2 separate regions of the Homo sapiens genome follow, and region 2 is linked to region 1. The links come from fine-mapping of genetic effects on gene expression. A gene starts in region 1. The other region holds a variant in brackets. All regions are shown on one strand. Distances are between the middles of the regions.

Region 1 (10,990 bases):
TAGTCCCAGCTACTCTGAAGGCTGAGGCACAGGAATTGCTTGAACCCTGGAGGTGTAGATTGCAGTGAGCCGAGATCATGCCCCTGCACTCCAGCCTGGACAACAGAGCAAGACCCTGTCTCAAAAAAAAAAAAAAAAAAAAAGGCCAGGTGCAGTGATTCACACCTGTAATCCCAGCACTTTGGGAGGCAGAGGAAGGTGGATCACCTGAGGTCAGGAGTTCGAGACCAGCCTGGCCAACATGGCGAAACCCCATCTCTACTAAAAATACAAAAATTAGCTGGGCGTGGTGGCACGCACCTGTAATCCCAGCTACTTGGGAGGCTGAGGCAGGAGAATGGCTTGAAGCAGGAGAATGGCTTGAACCTGGGAGGTAGAGGTTGCAGTGAGCCAAGATTGTGCCACTGCACTCCATCTTGGGTGACAGAGCAAGATTCCATCTCTAAAAAAAAAAAAAAAAAAAAAAAGTATTCCCTGATCTGTTAATTACTTTAATTACTGGGAGAGGCATGTAACGTTTCTTACTCTGTTGGTGAATTTGTCCATTTTCCCTTGTGTTCTGTTAATTTTTTTATTTTTTGATACAGGGTCTTGCTCTGTTGCCCAGGCTGGAGTGCAGTGGCATGATCTCGGCTCACTGCAGCCTTGATCTCCTGGGCTCAAGTGATCCTCCTACCTCAGCCTCCCAAGTAACTGGGACCACATGTATGCACCACCATGCCCAGCTAATTTTTGTATTTTTCTTAGAGACAGGGGTTCACCACGTTGGCCAGGCTGGTCTCAAAATCCTGAGTTTAAGCAATCCACCTGCCTCGGCCTCTCAAAGTGCTGGGATTATAGGCATCAGCCATTGCGCTCAGCCAATTTTTATTTTATTTGTTTTGAGACTGTATTATTAGACAGATAATACTCCAACATGTGAGCTAGAACATTAACAAGCAATTTATACCTAGGTATTTGTGAACTATACCTAGGTATTTGTGAATTATACCTAGGTATTTGTGAACTACTTACCATCCCAGGTTTCTGCCTCCTCGATTTGAAGTAATAATATCCTGTCTTACTCTTTCTTTTCCTTTTTTTTTTTTTCAGACAAAGTCTCACTCTGTTGCCCAGGCTGGAGTGCAGTGGCACAATCTCAGCTCACTGCAACCTCCGCCTCCCGGGTTCATGTGATTCTCCTGCCTCAGCCTCCTGAGTAGCTGGGATTACCGCCACCACACCGGGCTAATTTTTATATTTTTAGTAAAGATGGGGTTTCACCATGTTGGCCAGGCTGGTCTCAAACTCCTGATCTCAGGTGATCTGCCCACATCAGCTTCCCAAAGTGCTGGGATTACAGGTGTGAGCCACTGTGCCCGGCCAAGTTTTTTGCTTTTTTTTTTTAAACTACATATTTCCCCATTTATTGGCTTATGAGTTATATACTGTCTTCAATTTATATTACTTAAGTGGTTTCCTTTAAAACTTTAATACAGATACTTAAGATCTCACATTTATCCCTACTCTCCATCTGATAATACAAGGAGCTTAGAATGCTTTAACTTCCTGCAGCCAATTAAGCCGACTGAGTTCCTTTCCTCATGGGGGCCCAGTGTGCAATGGCTGTAAATAGCAGCTTCCTTGGTAGTGTATGCAGCCTGTTTGTTGTATGGGTTGCTCTAAGGGACCTTGGAGACAGTCCTTTCAGATGGATGTTCATGTTTCTGACCTTACACTACCCCAATGTAGGCTCCAAACTGGCATGCGAGGTGCCTTTGGAAAGCCCCAGGGCACTGTGGCCAGGGTTCACATTGGCCAAGTTATGTCCATCCACACCAAGCTGCAGAACAAGGAGCATGTGATTGAGGCCCTGCGCAGGGCCAAGTTCAAGTTTTCTGGCCGCCAGAAGATCCACATCTCAAAGAAATGGGGCTTCACCAAGTTCAATGCCAATTAATTTGAAGACATGGTGGCTGAGAAGCGGCTCATCCCAGATGGGTCAAGTACATTCCCAATCATGGCCCTCTGGACAAGTGGCGGGTCCTGCACTCATGAGGGCTTCCACTGTGCTGCCCCCTCTTAATACTCACCAATAAATTCTACTTTCTGTCCACCTAAAAAAAAAAATGCTTTAACTTCAGTTACCCCTCTCTCTTATGTACTTTTAGTCTGTTATTTTAGTTTTATCCTGATTCCCTCACATAAACATTATTAGTATATTATTAGTGTTGTTTTATACAGTTGTTTAAATTTATCTACTTTTTTTGCTCACTGTTCCTTTTTGCATCTCATTCTTTCCTTCAGTGATTCCTTTCCTTCTTGAAATAATTCCTGGCCTGGCACAGTGGCTCACGCCTGTAATCCCAGCACTTTGGGAGGCCGAGGCAGGCGGATCACCTGAGGTCAGGAATTCGAGACCAGCCTGGCCAACATGGTGAAACCCCGTCTCTACTTAAAATACAAAAATTAGCCAGGCATGGTGGCAGGCGCCTGTAATCCCAGCTACTCAGGAGGCTGGGGCAGGAGAATTGCTTGAACCCGGGAGGCGGGGGTTGCAGTGAGCTGAGATCGCACCATTGCACTCCAGCCTGGGGGACAAGAGCGAGACTTCATCTCAAAAAAAAAAAAAAAAAGAATTCCTTTAGAATTTCTTCGTTAGGAGTCTATGGATGGTAAATACTCTCAATTTTTATCTAAAAATCTGTTTTCCCTTACTTTTTAACAGTAGTTCATTTTTAATTTTATTTATTTTTATAAAGACAGGGTCTCCCTGTGTTGCCCAGGCTGGTCTGGAACTCCTTGGCTAAAGAGATCTTCCTGCCTCAGCCTCCTAAAGTGCTGGGATTATAGGCTTGAGCCACTGCACATGACCAAATAATAGTTTAGTTGGGTATACAATTCCAATTTGACAGTTGGCTTTTTTTTCTCAGTATTTTGAAGATAATGTCTCCAGCTTGTATGTTGCTAATGAGAGGTCTGCCCTTGGTCCAATTTCTTATTTTGAGACGGAGTTTTGCTCTTGTTGCCGAAGCTGGAGTGCAATGGCGTGATCTCGGCTCACCACAACCTCCGCCTCCCAGGTTCAAGTGATTCTCCTGCCTCAGCTTCCGGAGTACCTGGGATTAAAGGCATGCGCCACCATGCCTGGCTAATTTTGTATTTTCAGTAGAGACAGGGTTTCTCCATGTTGGTCAGGCTGGTCTCGAACTCCCAACCTCAGGTGATCCGCCCGCCTTGGCCTCCCAAAGTGCTGGGATTATAGGTGTGAGCCAACATACCTGGCACCTTGGTCCAATTTCTAATTGCCATTCTTTTGTAGATAATCTGTCTCTTTTCTTCCACTGCTGTAAGATCTTTATGTCTTGGTTTTCTTCAATTTAACTAAAACATGTCTATAGGTAGCTTTATTTTTATTTTTGCTAATAATTTATTGTAACTTTTTACTGTTTTTTTTTTTTTTTTTTGAGACAGGGTCTCACTCTGTCATGCAGGCTGGAGTGCAGTGGCGCAATGTTGGCTCACTCCAACCTCTGCCTCCTAGGCTCAAGCAATTCTCCTGCCTCAGCCTCCCGAGTAGCTGAGATTACAGGTGTGTGCCACTACTGCCCGGCTAATTTTTTGTATTTTTAGTAGAGATGGTGTTTCATAATGTTGGCCAGGCTGATCTTGAACTCCTGAGTTCAAATGATTCACCAGCCTCAGCCTCCCAAAGTGCTGGGATTACAGGCATAAGCCACTGCACTCGGCCCTGTAACTTTTAAATCTATAGAATCAGGAATGGAAAATTTGTGGCCATTATTTTGAAATGTCCAACATATGTTGCATTCTAAGCATTCACAAATAAATAATAAATAATGAAAATGAACTGGGGGAGAGGTGGGCTGTGCCCACAGTGTCCCCTTTCTACAATCCTGAATTCTCTGAATTCCTGAATCTCTCCACTGTAAGTTATTACAGGCCATCTACAGGCCAGTTCTGAGGCAAACTAGACAGTGTGGGAGCCATGCAGGGAGGCGGAAGTGGAAATGAGGTTCCTGGTATTCCCAGGAAGAAGTAAGGCTATAAGGGGAAATAATATAATTCCTAAAATCTTTTTTTTTTTTTTTTTTGAGACAGGGTCTTTCTCTGTTGCCCCAGCTGGAGTGCAGTGGTATGATCATGGTTCACTGCAGCCTTGACCTCCTGGGCCCAAGCAATACCCCTACCTCATCCTCTGAGTAGCCAGGACCACAGGTGTGCATCACCACACCCAGCTAATTTTTTAAAATGTTTTTGTAGAGAGGGGGTCTCCCTCTGTTGCGTAGCCTCATCTTGAACTCCTGGGCTCAAGCGATCCTCCTGCCTCAGCTTCCCAAAGTGTTGGGATTACAGGCGTGAGCCACCACACCCAGCCTAAAATCTTTTACCCTTTAGCTAAGGATGACATCCTCTTCCTCTGTCAATATTTAACTAGAAGGATCAGGCTAGGCATCTCTTCGTTGTGCTCCCCAGCATCCTTTTCTTCCCGTATCAAGCGCAGCACGTGGAAGTGTCGTGACCTGTTTTCTTGTGCGTCTGCTAAAATGTGAGTTAGGCTATGAACACCATAGGAAGAGGAATTGTGCCGGACTTATTCAAACTGTACCCCAGGCACTTAGCTTAACAACTGGTGTCTAGCAGATACTCAGCAAAAGTGCATTGCATCGAAGACTGAATAATTTCAAGATAGGAGTATTCAACGTCTAATATGTACCAAGCGCTGTTCTCAATGCTACAGAAAAGCAGGTTTCTAAGGTTTCTGGAGTTAAACAAAAAACCCTGACATTGAACTTACATGGAATATTAAAGTCATTATCTACCATAAGCATTATTTCATGAAATAAAATAATTTCAACTCTACAAAACTAGGAAGCACAGAACGGAATACTATTTCCCTTAATGAAAAACTCCCTACATTGTTCTTTTTAAAAATCTCATTTCCTAGCTGAACGGTAAAAACATCATCATTGATTAGCTCCTATTCATAGAAGGCCCATTGCAACCCACTGGTACAGAAGAGAAACAAAGTATTCAGCGGAGAATACCCTAGCTCAATAAGCGGTACAATACAGTAAGGGAAATAGAAGTGACATGCGATGGACAGCCAGGCCTTAAATTGCGCGGTGCTGATTCCTGTCCCTTAACCCAACAATAGAAAGATAGGCGTGCCTGGAGTTGCTGGGGGACGAGGCTCGATCCAGTGTGAATTCCGTGAAGTTGTGCAGGGTTTCACTGTTTGCTGAGTGTGTTAGACAGGTTACCTGGTAGAGTTCTCACATTACTTCGTGAGATACACAGATATTATGACTCTATTATACTGGTGCAGAAAAAGGCTCGGGAAGATTCATGTTTCTTGTGCGACTTGCCCAAGGTGACACACAGTTCTAACAACTGGCCTATCGCAGGGTGTGAGATCTGGAACTCAGACCTTCCCAGCCAGGGCTCAGTCCACGCCACTGCCTAGATGAGGCAGCAGGAAGGGTCAGCAGAGAAGGGTGCCCCACCGGGACGACTGGAACACCTCAGTAGGATATGGGTGGGCAAACGTGGGCCACACGATCCCACCGGCCTCTTTTGTCCTAAGTCCCGAGGCACGGGTGCAGCTAGAAGAGTGGGCGGTAAAGCGCAGGGAGGGGATGCGGTCGGGAGCAGATTTCGGGGGCGGGGCCCGCGCGGCGGGGGCGGGCCCGCGGCGCTCGGGGCGGGGCTCCCCTCGGGTTCGCGGCCCGGCCGGTGAGCAACGGCTCTGCGGCCATGGCGAGCGGCGAGCATTCCCCCGGCAGCGGCGCGGCCCGGCGGCCGCTGCACTCCGCGCAGGCTGTGGACGTGGCCTCGGCCTCCAACTTCCGGGCCTTTGAGCTGCTGCACTTGCACCTGGACCTGCGGGCTGAGTTCGGGCCTCCAGGGCCCGGCGCAGGGAGCCGGGGGCTGAGCGGCACCGCGGTCCTGGACCTGCGCTGCCTGGAGCCCGAGGGCGCCGCCGAGCTGCGGCTGGACTCGCACCCGTGCCTGGAGGTGACGGCGGCGGCGCTGCGGCGGGAGCGGCCCGGCTCGGAGGAGCCGCCTGCGGAGCCCGTGAGCTTCTACACGCAGCCCTTCTCGCACTATGGCCAGGCCCTGTGCGTGTCCTTCCCGCAGCCCTGCCGCGCCGCCGAGCGCCTCCAGGTGCTGCTCACCTACCGCGTCGGGGAGGGACCCGGGGTGAGTGCGCCCCAGACTGCGCCCGCCGCTGCCTGCCTGCCCTTCCGGCCCCCAGCCGCCCTGCACCCTCACCTACCCCACCCGGGAGGAGGGACAGGGAGGACCCTTCCAGAGCGTCCCTAGAGGGGCCTACTCCCCGCGCGCCGCCTCTAGGCCTCCTCCCCTTGCTTCCTCTTTTCCTCCCGGGCTGCCTGGTTTCCTTCTGGACTTCCTCCAGCCACTGGGCGGTGCATCCTTCACCCTTTCCGTCCTTCCGCGTCTCCTCCCTGGCCCTGGAGGCTTGTCCAGATTGCGCCGCATTCCCGCTCATCGCACACTGCCGTTTCTAACATTTTCCGTGGCTTTCTAGATGACCTGTTGTTCATGCACTTCACTTAGTGCCCTCTTGGACTTTTGGGCCGAGGTACCTGATTATCAGCCACCTTATCTCTGCTTTATGGTGGCTCTAGAATTAGCCAGATGTTGATCTAGCTCTTTGTTCTGTGTTGCCTTCTAGTTCCACGGTTAAAGCTCTTATCTTTGTTTTTGTTTCCTCCTGTGAAGTCCTGGATTTGATTAACGAAAGAATTTGAGTAAAAGTGAGAACTGGAATTAGGGTGCTATAAGCATTATAATAATTTGGCCTTCTCACTGTTGGTTAACTCTTTAATTTTTTTTCGGGACGGGGCAAATATTGGAAATAAGAGGATGGAGTTATGTGGCTTATGTCTGTAAGAGTCAGAAAATCCTTCCTGGAGAGTCCTTAGGCTGTGGCTGCCAGTTATCTCTCAGGTAGAGTTGGTTGCAAGTTTCATAGTAAACTGCTTGCTTACAGTTTAATCTTTTATTTATTTATTTGAGGCAGAGTCTCACTCTCGTCCAGGCTGGAGTGCAGTGGCAAGATCTCGGCTCACTGCAACCTCTGCGTCGTGGGTTCGAGCGATTCTCGTACCTCACCCTCCCTAGTAGCTGGGACTACAGGCGTGCGCCACCACACCCGGCTAATTTTTGTATTGTTTAGTAGAGACAAAATTTCACCATTTTGGTCAGGCTGGTCTCGAACTCCTGACCTCGTGATCCGCCTGCCTCGGCGGCCTCCCAAAGTGCTGGGATTACAGGCGTGAGCCACTGCGCCCGGCCCACAGCTTGGTTTTATACATTAGGGAGACATGATACATCAGTCAGTATATGTAAGAAGTACATTGGTTGGGTCTGAAAAGGTGGGACAACTTGCAGCAAAGGCAGGAAGACTTGAAGCGGCTTCCGGATCACAGATAGGTGATACACAAATGGTTACATTCTTTTGAGTTTCTGATGAGCCTTTCCAAAGGAAGCAAATCAGATATGCATCCATCTCAGTGAGCAGAGTAGTGGCTTTGAATAGAATGGGAGGCAGGTGTGCCCTAAGCGGTTCCCAGGTTGAGTTTTCTTTAGTGATTTTGGGGGCCCAAGAGATTTTCCTTTCACAGCCTGATAACACCACTGCACTCCAGCCTGAGCAACAGAGTGCGACCCTGTTTTAACAACAACAACAAAAAAGCAAAGATGATGAGTAAGCAATTTTGGTGGAGGGGGGATGATGGCTAATATTTAATAAGATGAGCCAGGCACTAGTCTAAGTGCTTGACATAGGTTAAATGAGTTGTCTTTCCATAAGTGGTTAATATGGTGCGTGGTACATGGTAAGTAAGCTGTGTTAGCTCTTACTGCTAACTTTTGTATTTCTTTCTTTTTTTTTTTTTTTTTTTTTTTTTTTTTTTTTTTTGAGAAGGGATCAAAAAGCTCCCTACATTGTTCTTTTTAAAAATCTCGTTTCCAGGCTGGGTGTGGTGGCTCACATCTGTAATCCCAGCACTTTGGGAGGCCAGGGCTGGCAGATCACCTGAGGTCAGGAGTTTGAGACCAGCCTGGCCAACATGGTGAAACCCTACCTCCACTAAAAATACAAAAATTAGCTGGTTGTGGTGGCTCACACCTGTAAACCCAGCTACCTGGGAGCCTGAGGCAGGAGGATCGCTTGAATCTGGGACACAGAGGTTGCAGTGAGCTGAGATCATGCCATTGCATTCCAGCCTGGGTGACACAGCGAGGCTCCATCTAAAAAAAAAAAAAAAAAATACTCATTTCCTAGCTGATCAGTAAAAACATCACTGACTGATGGCATTCAATGATCAGTCAATTGATCAATTCTTATTGACTGGTATAGTGGCACCATCTCAGCTCACTGCAGCCTTGACCTCCCTGGCTCAAGTGATCCTCCCACCTTAGCCTCCTGAGTAGCTGGGGTAGCTGGGACCAACCACAGACCTGCCACCTCCACACTTGGCTAATTTTTGTTATTTTTTGTAGAGATGGGGTTTTGCCATGTTGCCCACGCTGGTCTTGAACTCCTGGGTTCAAGCCATCTGCCCGCTTTGGCATCCCAAAGTGCTGGGACTACAAGCATGAGCCAACATGCCTGGCTTAATTGAGCAGCCAGTTCAGAGAGTTCCCATATACAGTTCAGTACCTCCTACATACACATATACACACAGATTCCCCTCTTGCTACCATTTTGCATTAGTATGACACATTTGTTACAATTAAACAATGCTGATATATTATTAACCAAGATTGAATCATTTTACATTAGTATAATAATATATTTGTTATAATTAATAAACCAGTACCGATACTGGAGTCCATAGTTTTTTCAGATTCCCTTAGTTTTTACTTAATGTCTTTTTCTGTTCCAGGAAGCCATCCAGAATTCCACATTATATTTAGCTGTCATGTATCCTCTTGGGACTGTGACAGTTTCTCAAACTTTCCTTGTTTTTGATATAACTTTGACAGTTTGTTTGTTTTTTGAGACAGGGTCTTGCTCTGTCATCCAGGCCGTAGTGCAGTGAGTGGCACAATCATGGCTCACTGCAGCCTTGATCCCCCTGGTTCAAGTGATCCTCCTGCCTCAGCCCAAGTAGCTGGGACTACAGGCGCATACAACTGCGCCCAGCTAATTTTTTGAATTTATTATTTGTAGAGATGAGGTCTCACTGTGTTATCCAGGCTTGTCTCAAACGCTTGGGCTCAAACAAACAATTCTCCCATCTTGGCCTCCCAAAGAAAGTGCTAGAATTACAGGCATGAGCCACTGCTCCCAGCCAGTTTTTTGTTTTTTATTTTTTTATTTTTATTTTTTCTGTAGAGACAGGGTCCCCCTATGTTGCCCAGGCTGGTCTCAAACTCCTGGCCTCAAGCGATCCTCCTGCCTTGACCTCCCGAAGTGCTGGCATTACAGGTGTGAGCCACTGAGCCCAGCCAACCTTGACAGTTTTGAGGAGTGTTGGCCAGGTATAGCGTAGGATGACCCTGTATTGGAATTTATCTGATGTTTTCTCATGATTAGATTGGGATTATGGGTTTTGAGGGGCAATTCACAGAGGTAAAGTGCCATTTTCTTTCTTTTTTTTTTTTTTTTTTCTTGAAATGGAGTTTCACTCTTGTTACCCAGGCTGGACTGCAGTGGTGTGATCTCGGCTCACTGCAACCTCCGCCTCCCTGGTTCAAGCGATTCTCCTCCCTCAGCCTCCGAAGTAGCTGGGACTATAGGCATATGCCACCACCCTGGTTAATTTTTGTATTTTTAGTAGACACAGGGTTTCACTGTGTTGGCCAGGCTGGTCTTGAACTCCCGACCTCAGGTGATCCACCAGCCTCGGCCTCCCAAAGTGCTGGGATTACAGGTGTGAGCCACTGCGCCCAGCCAAAGTGCCATTTTCATCAGGTATTGAGGGCGCATAGTATCCACATGATTTATGACTGTCAGCGTTAACCTCGGTCCCCTGGCTGAAGCAGTGATTATCAGCTTTCTCCACTGTGAAGTTATTCTCTCATCCCTTTCTATACTGCACTGTACCTGTTATAAGGAGACTAATTAAATTTTTCACACACAAAAACTCAAACCCAGCATCCCAACGTAGCTTCCTTATGCCTCTTAAAATAGGTCTCAGACACTGCTGTGTTCAGAACCCTTCATTAGACTTGCCCAGGCCTGCCTCCCCAACTCTGCATCTGGAGCCTGCATCTGTTTATGCCTCTCCTCATGTTGCTGCTCGTCTCCTTGTGAATGTCTCCTCCCTTCCTTTCCAGCCATCTCAATCCTGCGTGTCTTTGAAGGTCCAGCCAGAAAGTTTTCTTCCCCTATGAAATCATCCTGGAGTAATCGAATCCATTTCTAAATTCTAAATGCTATTTGTTACTGACCTATGCTCCATCCTGCCCCTCTTCCAGGTAAATGAATGGCTGTTTGCTATAGGCAAAAACTGGGTTTTGTGATAAATCATTCAGATTTTACTTTTTTTTTTTTTTTTTTTTTTTTTTTGAGGCAGAGTCTCGCTCTGTCACCCAGGCTGGAGTGCAGTGGCATGATCTCAGCTCACTGCAACATCTGCCTCCTGGGTTCAAGCAATTCTCCTGCCTCAGCCTCCTGAGTAGCTAGAATTACAGGTGCATGCCATCACACCCGGCTAATTTTTGTATTTTTAGTAGCAACAGGGTTTTACCATGTTATCCAGGCAGGTCACGAACGCCTGACCTCAAGTGATCCACCTGCGTCGGACTCCCAAAGTGCTGGGATTACAGGCGTGAGCCACTGCACCCAACCCAGATTTGCCCTTTGTTTAAGAGCTAACAGAACACAGATAAAGAATCATATAACCAGTGCCTATTATATAAAATACCTTTCTTCTGAAAAGGTAAATTTTAGGAACAGAAAACACATATTAGGCCAGGTGCAGTGGCTCATGCCTGTAATCCCAGCACTTTGGGA
Region 2 (10,990 bases), 350 kb before region 1:
GTCCCCTTGTGACTTTCTTTACTTCGATTCTGAAGCTGATGAGAGAACTCAAGAAGCAGAAATGCAGGGCAGGCCTTCCTTTGAATGGCCTTTTTCCAATTAGTAAAATGTTTCCCTGGTGACTCTTTGACTTTCTTCTCCTACCTGATTCCCTTCATTTTGAATTCATTCTTTGGGAAAAGTGTCTAGGCATTAAATTGTTTAAGATTTTACATTATCTACCTTACAAGTCCCTTGGTATATTCAGAACCTGACATTTTCCAAAGAGCTCAGAATTCTTCATTCAAATATTTTAATGCAGCTTAAACAGAACCATGTTTCCTTCATTCAGCAAACATTTATTGCATGTTTGCATTTTAAACAGAAATGGAAATGTGTCACACCACCCTACCTCCTAGACCCTGCCCCTTTCAGTCTCTGGATTAGGGTTGGAGAGAGGGTCATGGCACAAAGACCTGACTCATCACCATGGTGGTTAGAAGTTAGTTCAAGACAGATTTGAGGCTCAAGGGTGCGATTAGGACCAAGGACACTCCGAGATGCTGCACGCCAATGGGCAGGCACCCAGCACACTCTGCAGGGCCTAGAGCTGCTGCCATGGCAGCTCTGCCAAGGGCCAGGCTGGGCCACCCTTCAAAGCTTCATAGCCAAGGAGGTGCCATCTGCTTCCTAGAATCCACAGACATTGTGTTTTTGTGGAAATCTCTCCTCCCTCCCTGCCACCCGCCCCAGCACCTCAGCCTTCTGCAAAGCCCCAGTGGAATGCAGAAGCAGAGGTCACCTGCTTCCCTCCCCATCTCCAGCCTGGTCATGCCTGACCTGCTTCTCCAGGGAATGAATCTTGCAGCCATCTTCTCCCCTGCCCCATCCTCCACAGCCCTCTCTTTTCAAGGGCCTTGGTGTGGCCTTCCCAGTGAAGCTTGTCTCCTCTCATCCATCACTTCCCTTTGGACCCAGAGAAGGTGCAATCCCCTGTCCGCTCTCAGGAGACCCTGGTCTCACACATCTAATTCCATCACATCCTCAACCTCATCCCTCTCTGCTATCCTGGAAGAGAGCCACAGCAGCTTCACCACAGCCCTTGCTGACTTTTCCCAACTGCCAGTGCACCCTTTACCACCTCCCTAACCCCCAACAGTTCTCTTCTTCCTGCATTGGGTGGGCCTTGGGTTGGACTTCAATTGGAACTATGGTTAATGGTATCAGGAGCGTAGGGTTACTGGTGTCACTACTGCAATTTTCTTCTCTCTGGTTCAACCTCTGCCTGACTTCTGGCATACAGAGTGCTGTCCACTCAGGCTGAGAAGTGAGGGCGGACATGGAGGCCTGGCCATGTTTGGAGAGATGGAGGCAGATGTGGATAAAAATACAGAGCTGACTGAAATTAGAGATAAAGCCTGCCTTCCTCAATGTTTCTGCCATTGGAGTTTCTGGCCCATATGACTGATGTAACCTCACCCACTCTTGCATCATATTAATGGCAGCAACAATCGTGACTGTAACTATTTCTTTTTTTGTTTTTAGTCTTTAATTTATTTACTGGAGACAGATTCTTGCTTTGTTCCCCAGGCTGGGGTGCAGTGGCACAGTCATAGCTCACTGTAACCTCAAACTTTTGGGCTCAAACAATTCTCCTGCCTCGGCCTTCCAAAGCTCTGGGATTAACAGTTGTGAGCCACCACCCTGGCCTATTCCTATTTTTCTTTTTCTTTTTTTTTTTGAAATGGAGTCTCACTCTGTCGCCCAGGCTGGAGTGCAGTAGCACGATCTCGGCTCACTGCAACATCCACCTCCCTGGTTCAAGCGATCCTCCTGCCTCAGCCTCCCGAGTAGCTGAGATTACAGGCATGCACCACCAAGCCTGGCTAATTTTTGTATTTTTAGTAGAGGCGGGGTTTCGCCATGTTTGCCAGGCTGGTCTCAAACTCCTGACTTCAAGTGATCCATCCGCCCCGGCCCCCCCACCCTAAGTACTGGGATTATAGAAATGAGCCACTGCACCCGTCTGCCTATTCTTATTTTTAACACTGGTTATTGCATACCTGCTCTGGCCCAGACGCTGTGCTTAGCTCTTTACATATATGATGTTAATCAATGAAACAGTTGACACATTATATAGAATTCCCTCTCCCCAGTAGAATTTTCTGTTACTTTCTCACCAATATGTTGCATCCCCTACTTCAAAATCCCAGGTCCATTCTAATTTCTTCCAAGAAACCAACCAACCCCAGTCTTTCTTTATCCCCTTGGCACTTGTGTACTTGGACAGACATTTAATTGACAATAAGAGCCTGGTGCAGTGGCTCACACCTGTAATTCCAGCACTTTGAGAGGCTGAGGTGGGCAGATCTCGAGCTCAGGAGTTCGAGACCAGCCTGGGCGACATGGCAAAACCCCATCTCTACAAAAAATATGAAAATCAGCTAGGCGTGGTAGCTTGAGCCTGTAATCCCAGCTACTTGAGAGGCTGAGGTGGGAGGATCATTTAAGCTCAGGAAATCAAGGCTGTAGTGAGCCTTGATCATACCACTGTGCTCCAGCCTGAGTGACACAGTGAGACCCTGTGTCAAAAAAAAAAAAAAAAAAGAGAGACAGTAGTACATGGCGATTGTCCCCATCATACCAAGCACCCCCAGGGGCCAGGATGAGGCCTCCTGCTTTCTCTAACGACACCCCACCCTGCACTATCCCCATCATTCACCTGAGGGGCCTGAGATACAAAAGAGCTCAGCACTGCCTAAATAGCTTAGAAAAAGCTGAGCAGAAGCAGCAAACACCTCACAACCCTAGACTGTAAAACAGATCCCAGCCTTGAGGGGCATCTTTTCACCCCATGATGGAAGCCGGACCCAGAGAGGAGAAGAGATCTACTCCAGGTTATACAGTGAGTTAATGGCAAAATTGAGCCCAGAGTCCCGGCCATCTAGGCATTGAAAAAAGTGAAAACTGGAGAGAGAGAAAGACAAATCTCAGTGGCACTGGAGACTCTCAGGGTTCCATGGCCCAGCCCTTCAATTTCCCCTCCTGCCTGCACAGCCCTCCCCTCCCCCTCCTGCCAAGCTGCCAAAGTCTCCATTTAGCTGGAGACAGCGGGCGGATGGGTGGGCGGGCCAGCTCCCAGAGCCTAGGGTAATTGCCTATAATGAAAGCTCCCACAGCCTTTGTTCCTGGGAGCAACTGTACGGTTGAGGTTGTGCTCAGAGGTCTGTGTGCACTTGGGAGCTGGTGCCCAGAGACCTCACCCTTCCTTCCTGCTACCACAACGGGCCCAGCAAGAGACCTGTCCTCCCGGGAGTCACTGTGATTGCAGCTGAGCCTACTCCTCCTTCTTTCCTGACCTACAAGCTGCCTGGACTACGAGCAAGCCCAAAGCCTGTGTGCCCCCTGAGCTACCAGGAATCAGTGACTTCAGCTTCAGAGGGAGCTCTTCCCTGTGTATATGTACATGGCTGTACATACATGCTCATCCTGAGGGCAAGGATCCTGGCAAGACAAAGGACCCAAGGCCTGGAGTTGCTAGGGTATCCCTCTGCCCTATAAGTGATAACGTTCCTGGGAAATGGGTAGACTGTAGAATGTCAAGGGGTGACAAGCATCGGGCATCCCAGTATCCTCTGGGGCTCCCTGCCTGGCGCAGCTTTGCACAGAAGGCCTGCTGCCTGCTGGAGGGCAGGCATGTGCACATACCCATCAGGGAGGGGCTGGCCCTGAGTGGTGCAGGGCACTATCAGAGAAGAAGAACCAAGTTCTAAGAGGGTTTTCTTAGCCCCATGGAGGGGCTTAGAGACCAGGACATCTCTACCATGAGTGACTACCCTTTCTTGGTCCCACAGGTTGCAAACTGACCAGAAACCTGGCCCCCTCTCCCAGGGCAGCTGGCCCCTTGATGGCTATGCTGAGCCCCTCCATGAGACTGAGGAGAGCTTCTCCTGCATGGGTAAGTGATCTGGGGGAGACTTCCTCCTAGGGTCGGGAGGCCACTGTGCTAGAGCTGCCTAGATGGAAGAAGAAGTGACCTAGGCTGGATGGGTCCATCTCTTGACAAGGAGACATCAACCTGTGAATTGCACTTTGAGTTTTCATCATGCTTGACTCAACCCAGGGTTGGTCCATCAAACCCAGGAGCCTTTTAGGGGCAGCATAGGGAAGTGGCCAGGGGATGCCCAGGCTATGGGAGTCACTGCATGTGTGTGTCATGTGAGAAGTCCTGACACAAAGGTAACAAGCTGGGAGTGAGAGCCAGGTTCTGAGTGGTGCCCAGGTTGAAAAATGAAGGTGCTGGAATTAGGGAGGCAGGCCAGAGCCATCTGGCTTGCTGCCTGACAACACTTCCCCTTCCAGGACCACTTTTAACAGGCCACTCCCACACATGTCCCCTTCCCCGTGTCATCCTGTAGTCATGAGATATCACCTGAGGCTCAGGCATGTGAGATTCACCAGGAAGATCCCTAAATTTCAAATACAGCAATATTCAATAAGGGCAGAGACCCTGACAGTCTCAGATGCATCTTCAGGTGCTCAGTGTCTCTGAATAAATGAATGATGCATGGATGAGTGAGTGTCTTGGGTACCATAGGTCAGGCCCTAAGTGGGTCAGATTCAAAACTCAGCAGCACTTACGGACGTGTGCTGATTTTCCTACAACATTAAAAAAGTATCTAGAGGATGGCTATGATTCACACCAGGGGTACATGAGGCTGCACACTGCAGGGAACCAGGTCAATCCTTTACTTTCCCAGACAAAGGGAAACTTGCCTCAACAAAGTAATAAATTTCCTTTTCACAAACCTGAGATTGTCCAGAGGGCTTGTCTCCCAGCTTTGTCTTGGTGCCCTGCTCCAGCGGGCCAAGCTGGGGCTTAGAACACAGCCTGACCCTGAGATCACCGGACAGGATGGTATACTGCTTCTGTCTTCTCTGTGCCCTGCTGGGCAGGTGGCCAGATATCCCTTCTTGGCCTGGGAGCTGGGACCTTTTGAGCCCTTTCTAGGCCTGGTCTATAGCAGTGATCTTGGAGCCACTGCAACCCTAAAAACAGAGCAGCAACACTCATTCTTCCATGACAAGCCTTGTGGAGGAGGGTTATGGGTTAAGGACTCAGCATTTGCAAAGCAAGCCATCTCCTTCCACAATAAATATACATGCAAGAGAACCAGGGCATGGCAGGGGACAAAAGGAAACCAAATTTCTCTGGCACCGAAAAGCCATCAGAATTAGAATGTGGTAACCAGGAAACTATGTGGAGCTCTATTTTTACATTTGCAGTTTTGTTAGTGTAATGGCTTCCTCATGTGGATGCCACATTGTTAGAGCCTAATGATCTCCATGCACCTAACCCAGCGCTCGTTCACGATTATTATCCGATGAGTTGATGAGAGGTCTTTTACTTTTAACGTCTGTTGCAGACTAGCATTAGGAATCCCCCAGGCTTGTCAGCTGGAAGACCACCCTCACTGGTTAGATGTGAAACTGTCTGCTAGATCACGGTTGGGTACCTCTG[G/A]GGGGACAGAGTGCCGGGGAACATTTGGAGGAGGGTTTTACCAGAAAAGTGAGAAACACTGGCTTTCTCCAAGGCTCCTAGGGAAGAGGAGCAGGGTTCACTGCACTGCCTCTGCTCTGGTGCTAGCTAGTTGTCATGGTGACCCATCTCTGCCGAGGATACGCCGAGCTCTTTGATGGGTTGGATGGGGAGAGAGATTTCGGATTTGCCTGCCTTGTGGAAGAGCCTGCGCTCTTCTGAGCTTGAAGAAAACAGAGAAGAGAGGAAGAGAGGAGGCAACTGAAGGATTTCATTTTATGCCTTGCCCTCTCACTCCCAAAGTCACTTGGGGCATGACATGACTCATTCATTCATGTATTCTTTCATTCAATCTACAAACCATCAGTGAGTGTTTGCCTTGTGCTGAACACTGTGCTTGACACTGGGGTAAAAGACAAATAAGACTTTGACCTGCCTTCAAGATGTTCACAGCCCAGGGATTCACTCCAGTGAGACTTATCTAGAGAATTTGTTGGGATCCCAGAAGCTGTGCCCAGTGACCTGCCCCTATAGGGGTTGACAAGGCAGCCAGTCAGTCCTGCCTCCCTCGCTAGGCCCCATGGCATAAGGAGGGCACTGAGCTTATTATCCCATTTATAGAAGGATAATTGGGTGCTTTGGAGAGTACTCCATCAAATATTTATATAATTCACAGAATCCAGCATAGTTATTTGACAGTTATTGATCATGTTATTTCCATATCAATTTGTAGATGGCTGGGGGTTTGGGGGCTTTTTTTTGAAGCTCATGTATCTTCCCTTCCTGACCATGAACTCATCTTGCCCCCCATCACCTAGCACAGTGCCTGGCGGTCAGGGTTTGGTGAAGGTATGATTTGAATGAATGAGTAAGGAATCCAATGTAAGTGGTTGTAGAGCTCTAAAATTTGTCCTCTATCAGCCTGTTTCTTCTCTACCAGCTGAGAAAGACCAACCAGTCTTTCTCTGCTCCTTTCCCAATGTGCTTCTCTCTGTCTTCCAAGCTCACTGAATGGGTTTGGGGGGTGAGTGCAGAGTCTTTGAGCGGAGCAGGAGAAGGCCAAAGAGCTTTCTCAGCCTTGTGCCACTTTCTTAATCTGCTTGGACTCTGGGCATAGAGTCCAAACAAGGCTTTCTAGTATTTATATAGCAGGAGAATTTCCCATGATGACTTGCCTCCAACCTGGGGCACTGGGGATGTTCTTCATATATCCTGAAGGCCATCCACCAGCAGCTGCTCCTTCTGCCTCTGCCCTGGGGCAAGTGTGGAAATGCCCAGCCCACTGATGTTTGTACATGTGCCCTGACCCTCCCTGGCCCATCTGATTCTGTTGGTGACAGCCCAGCACTGGTCCCATCTGCTGACTCTCCCTTTGGTTGCAGTCAGCACTGGGTAGTGTATAGACCACCATCAGATCTTAATTTGGACAGCCAAGAGAAGCCAAGGCTGACGTTACCGCGTGCCCACATGTGTGAGGCTGTGTGCAGGAGGACTGGGAAAGGTTGCCCCAAGGCTTATGCAGATTCTTTAATGACTTCCACTTTGTGGCATGTTTGAATGAGCACTAAGTGGACCCACAATGAAGGGATCTTTTTCTCATCATAGTACGTGTTATCAGGAAAAAGCCAGAGCCTCCTCCCTGCCTCCTTCTCACACGAGGGTTGATATATAGAGAGAATGGGTGGGGCAGTGTGGAGTTTGGCCTCATACTAGGGCTGTTTTGCTTTTCTTCCTCTTTCTTCTCCCTTGTTGAGCTGGCTCCATCTTTAAGCCACAGTGAAGTTTTTCATGCCTTATGGATTTGAAATAGAGCAGGAATAGAGTATTCATTCTAAGAGAACTTGCAAAGCTAGTGTGCCTGGGGCAGGAGCAAGGAATGGTAACTACTCTCTGGGAGAGAAGTTTGTTCTGGGGGTTTCAAACCAAATCCAAGTATTCCTGGACTACAAATGACTTGCATCAAAGAACATAGGAAGTCAAAGCTCTAACAAACTTTATAGATCTCCCAAATTTGGCCTCCTTTTCAATGAGGGAGAGATGAGACTCAGAGAAGAGAAGTGACTTGCTCAGGACTGCATAGGAAGTTAGCAGGTGAACTAAACCAGGACCACTGCTTTCTGACTCCTTAAACACTAAAAAGAACTAAATGGTAATAATGACTATCACTTATTGAATACCCTACTATGTGCAGGGCATAGTGCCAAGTGCTTTACATAAAGTCCTTCATGAATACCTTATATAATCCTTTGAAGGTGTTATTATTACTCTGTGTTATGGATAGGAAACTCAGGCTCAGAAGGGTTATATAAAACCTGTCTGAGGACATCCAGCTAGGAGGCTGTGCCAGGATTCCATCCCAGGCTTGTCAAAAGGCCACACTCTTCTCTTACTCCCTGCCTTCCCAACTGCCGCCAGTACTCACTCAGTCGCACACTGTCCAAGCTCAACTCAGTCTCCCTTAGCCTCTGCCAAGCAATGAGGAAGGAAATGGGATCAGTGAGCCACAGTCCCTGCTCACATCTCCCTCAATCTGAGCAGGTCCCAGGATGCCACTGGCATCCCTGTCACTCCAAACCTATGTCATTTCATGCTGAGTTCACACTGCTGTGTTCTTTGCCCTCTGGGGACCTCCAGGCCAAGATGAGCCTTATGTCCCAGTCATCTGTGGAGAGAAGACATGCAGACAATTGACTAGAAAGTAGAAACAGTTCAGGGGCAGATGATATTAGCCGTGTTCTCAGAGCTTGAGCAGGTTGGTGCTGTTGTGGGGCAGAGGTGGCTTGGGAGTGCGAGGGTCTCTGGAGACTCTGTTGGATAAACAAAGCAGCAATCTAGGACCTGGTAGGCTTCCAGGAACTGGGACGGGAGGTCATAATAGCACTTGTAGCAGCAGCCGACACTTACCGTGGCTTACTGTGAACCAGGCATTGTTATAAGCACCTTTAATCCTTCTAACAACTGCATGAGGTTTGGAATCTAACTCCCTACTTGCCTTGCATCACAGCTTCCTCACTTGCTAGCTATGCAGCCTTGGGGAACTTATTTAGTCTGTCTGTGCCCCTGTGTCCTTGGTTGTAACCAGGGATGATAACAGTGCTTTCCTCATAGGGTTTTGTGAGAATTAAATGCATGGATATTGGTAAAGCGCTTAGAAGAATGGCTGATACATAAGAACTGCTCAATATGTGTTTGGTGTTATTTGTTATTGAGGCAAGTGATGTTATTATCACACCCACTTTGCAGATGAGGAAACTGGGATAGACAGGTTAAGTGGCTTGCCCAAGGTGGTCTAGCCAGGATTTGAACCCATGCAGCTGGTCTTCAGAGGTCATGCTCTTAACCATACGTTCTATGACCTCACTGGAGGGGAAGATGACTCAAGTCTGGGAGTTCTCCCAGGGAGGCCAGGAGAGGCAGTGGGATCACCAGCCTGGCTCTGGGAGGGGCTATGAAGGAAGAGGCCAGATAAGTAAGGTCATCCGAGGTACCTGCTGGAGGGGTTTGAAATAGAAACTGTAGGAGTCTGGATGCTATTTCTTTAGAGGAGTACAGGAGGAGGGAGGAGATTGACTTTTCAAGACAATATTTGGCTGGGAAGGGGATTTATCTCAAGGCAGTGGATTTGACCCAATGTTAGCCATTTCAGTGGAGTGGCAAGAATAGCAGAAGCTGGTCAGCTTGGAGCCTCTTTTCCCCGTGGCTACCTTGGACTCAGGCCCTCCCACTCTAAAAGGTGTGTGAGTGATTCTACGTGGTTTTTGCAACTATGAGTGCTCCACATATAGTACAAATCCCTTGCTCTCCAGATCCTGATTGTGGTCCCAGAAATCAAGAAATCTTGGCAAGACCCAGCTTCCCTGTTTCTCGCTGCACCAAGAAAACCAGGACCTCTGCATTGCCCAACTCCAGAGGAAATTCATATCCAATTGACAATTTTTGTTTTGTTTTGTTTTGTTTTTTGTTTTTTTGAGACAGAGTCTCACTCTGTCACCCAGGCTGGAGTGCAGTGGCACGATCTCAGCTCACTGCAAGCTCCGCCTCCTGGGTTGATGCCATTCTCCTACCTAACCCTCCCAAGTAGCTGGGACTACAGACGTCCACCACCACACCTGGCTATCTTTTTTTTTTTTGTATTTTTAGTAGAGACGGGGTTTCACTGTGTTAGCCAGGATGGTTTCAATCTCCTGACCTCGCGATCTGCCCGCCTCAGCCTCCCAAAGTGCCAGGATTACAGGCGTGAGCCATTGCACCCAACCCATTTGCCAATTTTTTATAAAGCACTTACTGTGTTCCAGGTGTTATTCTAGAAGCTTGGAATACATTTGTGGACAAAATAGGCAAAGACTTCTACACTTGTGGGCCCTTTATGATGTAGCCTAGAGCTGTGCAGTGTACAACCTGTGCAGCTGTACGTGATCTACATGGTGGCCCTGGAGAAGCCCCAGCTCTGGAATATGTCTCCCACCCTAAGGAGCAGGAGCAGAGCTTTGGCCTCATGACATTCCTGGGACTATAAGCAACAGCAGTCTGTGGGCCACCCCCCTTCGCCCTGAGTGCTTGAATAGATGAGGAAGGTGATAAACTTTCCCCTGTAGTTTTCCTAGAGAATTACCCCCTATACCCAATACCTACCTGTCCTTGACTTGGCAGCCTCTTAGCAGATTTTTAGAGACTCCACTCTCCAACCTGCAGCGATCTGCTTCAGCTCCTCCTAGGAAATCCCAACCCCTTGTTTAGTTCTCCATGTGTCTATGAGCCATGGACAGGTTCTGGGAAAAAGGACACTGAAGGAGAGGTGGCCTGGTTGACAGGAATCTCTCCAGCTCAGACTGCTCCATACAGCTTTAGAGGTTGTTATCCAGGGAGCTGTGGAGCAGTTACAAGTTTCAGCTATGGGAGGCGGAACTATTTGCTAAACTTCCACCACTGCTGCTCCCTACTTCTCTGGCCAATCCAGGTAAGCCTCACCTCCAGTGCAGCTCTGAAGATCTGGCCCCTCAGATCTTTGCCCCATGCCTGGGCAGAGATTGGCCAGCCCTCCTTATAACTCTGAACTATTGTCTCCCTGGGAAGGCCCAGGGCAGACAGAGAGCCTGCAGAGGGGGCTTTATCTCAAGAAGTGCTGGCTCCATGCCAGTCTTGGCCAAGGCTGAAGTCTCCCTCCAGCACCACTGAATGGGCAGAAACTGGAACACACCATCCCAAGACCCCCCAAACCCCTTTGTAAGAGGATTAGGGTCCCCTGGTGAGAGACTTCCCTCCCCACTATAAGGCTGCGGGCAGGCTTACACAGAAGGAGCTCTGGAGAGAGGCAGTTGAAGAGAGAGGTGACACAGACACAATAGCCAGAGAGATTAAGTGCTGAGAATTACCCCAGCCACAATATTCATCCTTTAAAAGGGCGGAAGGAATAAAAAACTTGCCTTCCTGGGTGGTGGGAGTCCCAGGCTTCAGAGGGAGCTGAAGATAATT

The links. PIP is the estimated chance that this variant, and not a neighbour inherited with it, causes the effect.
Region 2: its variant is the best candidate, but not a certain one, in a credible set for the expression of RNPEP in whole blood (INTERVAL, PIP 0.83).

What each region holds. Positions count from the first base shown.
Region 1 is chr1:201,976,913-201,987,902 of GRCh38, forward strand. It overlaps RNPEP (arginyl aminopeptidase), which reads left to right and starts at 5,736. Exons shown (of 11, transcript NM_020216.4): 1 at 5,736-6,201. The coding sequence starts at 5,755. SNORA70H (small nucleolar RNA, H/ACA box 70H) reads left to right here and starts at 1,549; the gene lies at 1,549-1,683. It also overlaps the pseudogene RPL10P4. RefSeq lists an enhancer at 5,372-5,431 and silencers at 5,642-6,321, 9,038-9,212.
Region 2 is chr1:201,625,571-201,636,560 of GRCh38, forward strand. NAV1 (neuron navigator 1) reads left to right here. Exons shown (of 34, transcript NM_001389617.1): 4 at 3,834-3,937. LOC124904482 (a long non-coding RNA gene) reads right to left here. Exons shown (of 2, transcript XR_007066789.1): 1 at 4,789-10,990. Among named protein-coding and RNA genes, the nearest start is that of MIR5191, 88 kb to the right of the region's middle. RefSeq lists an enhancer at 2,867-3,368. The variant G/A (reference allele first, on the strand shown) is at 5,501.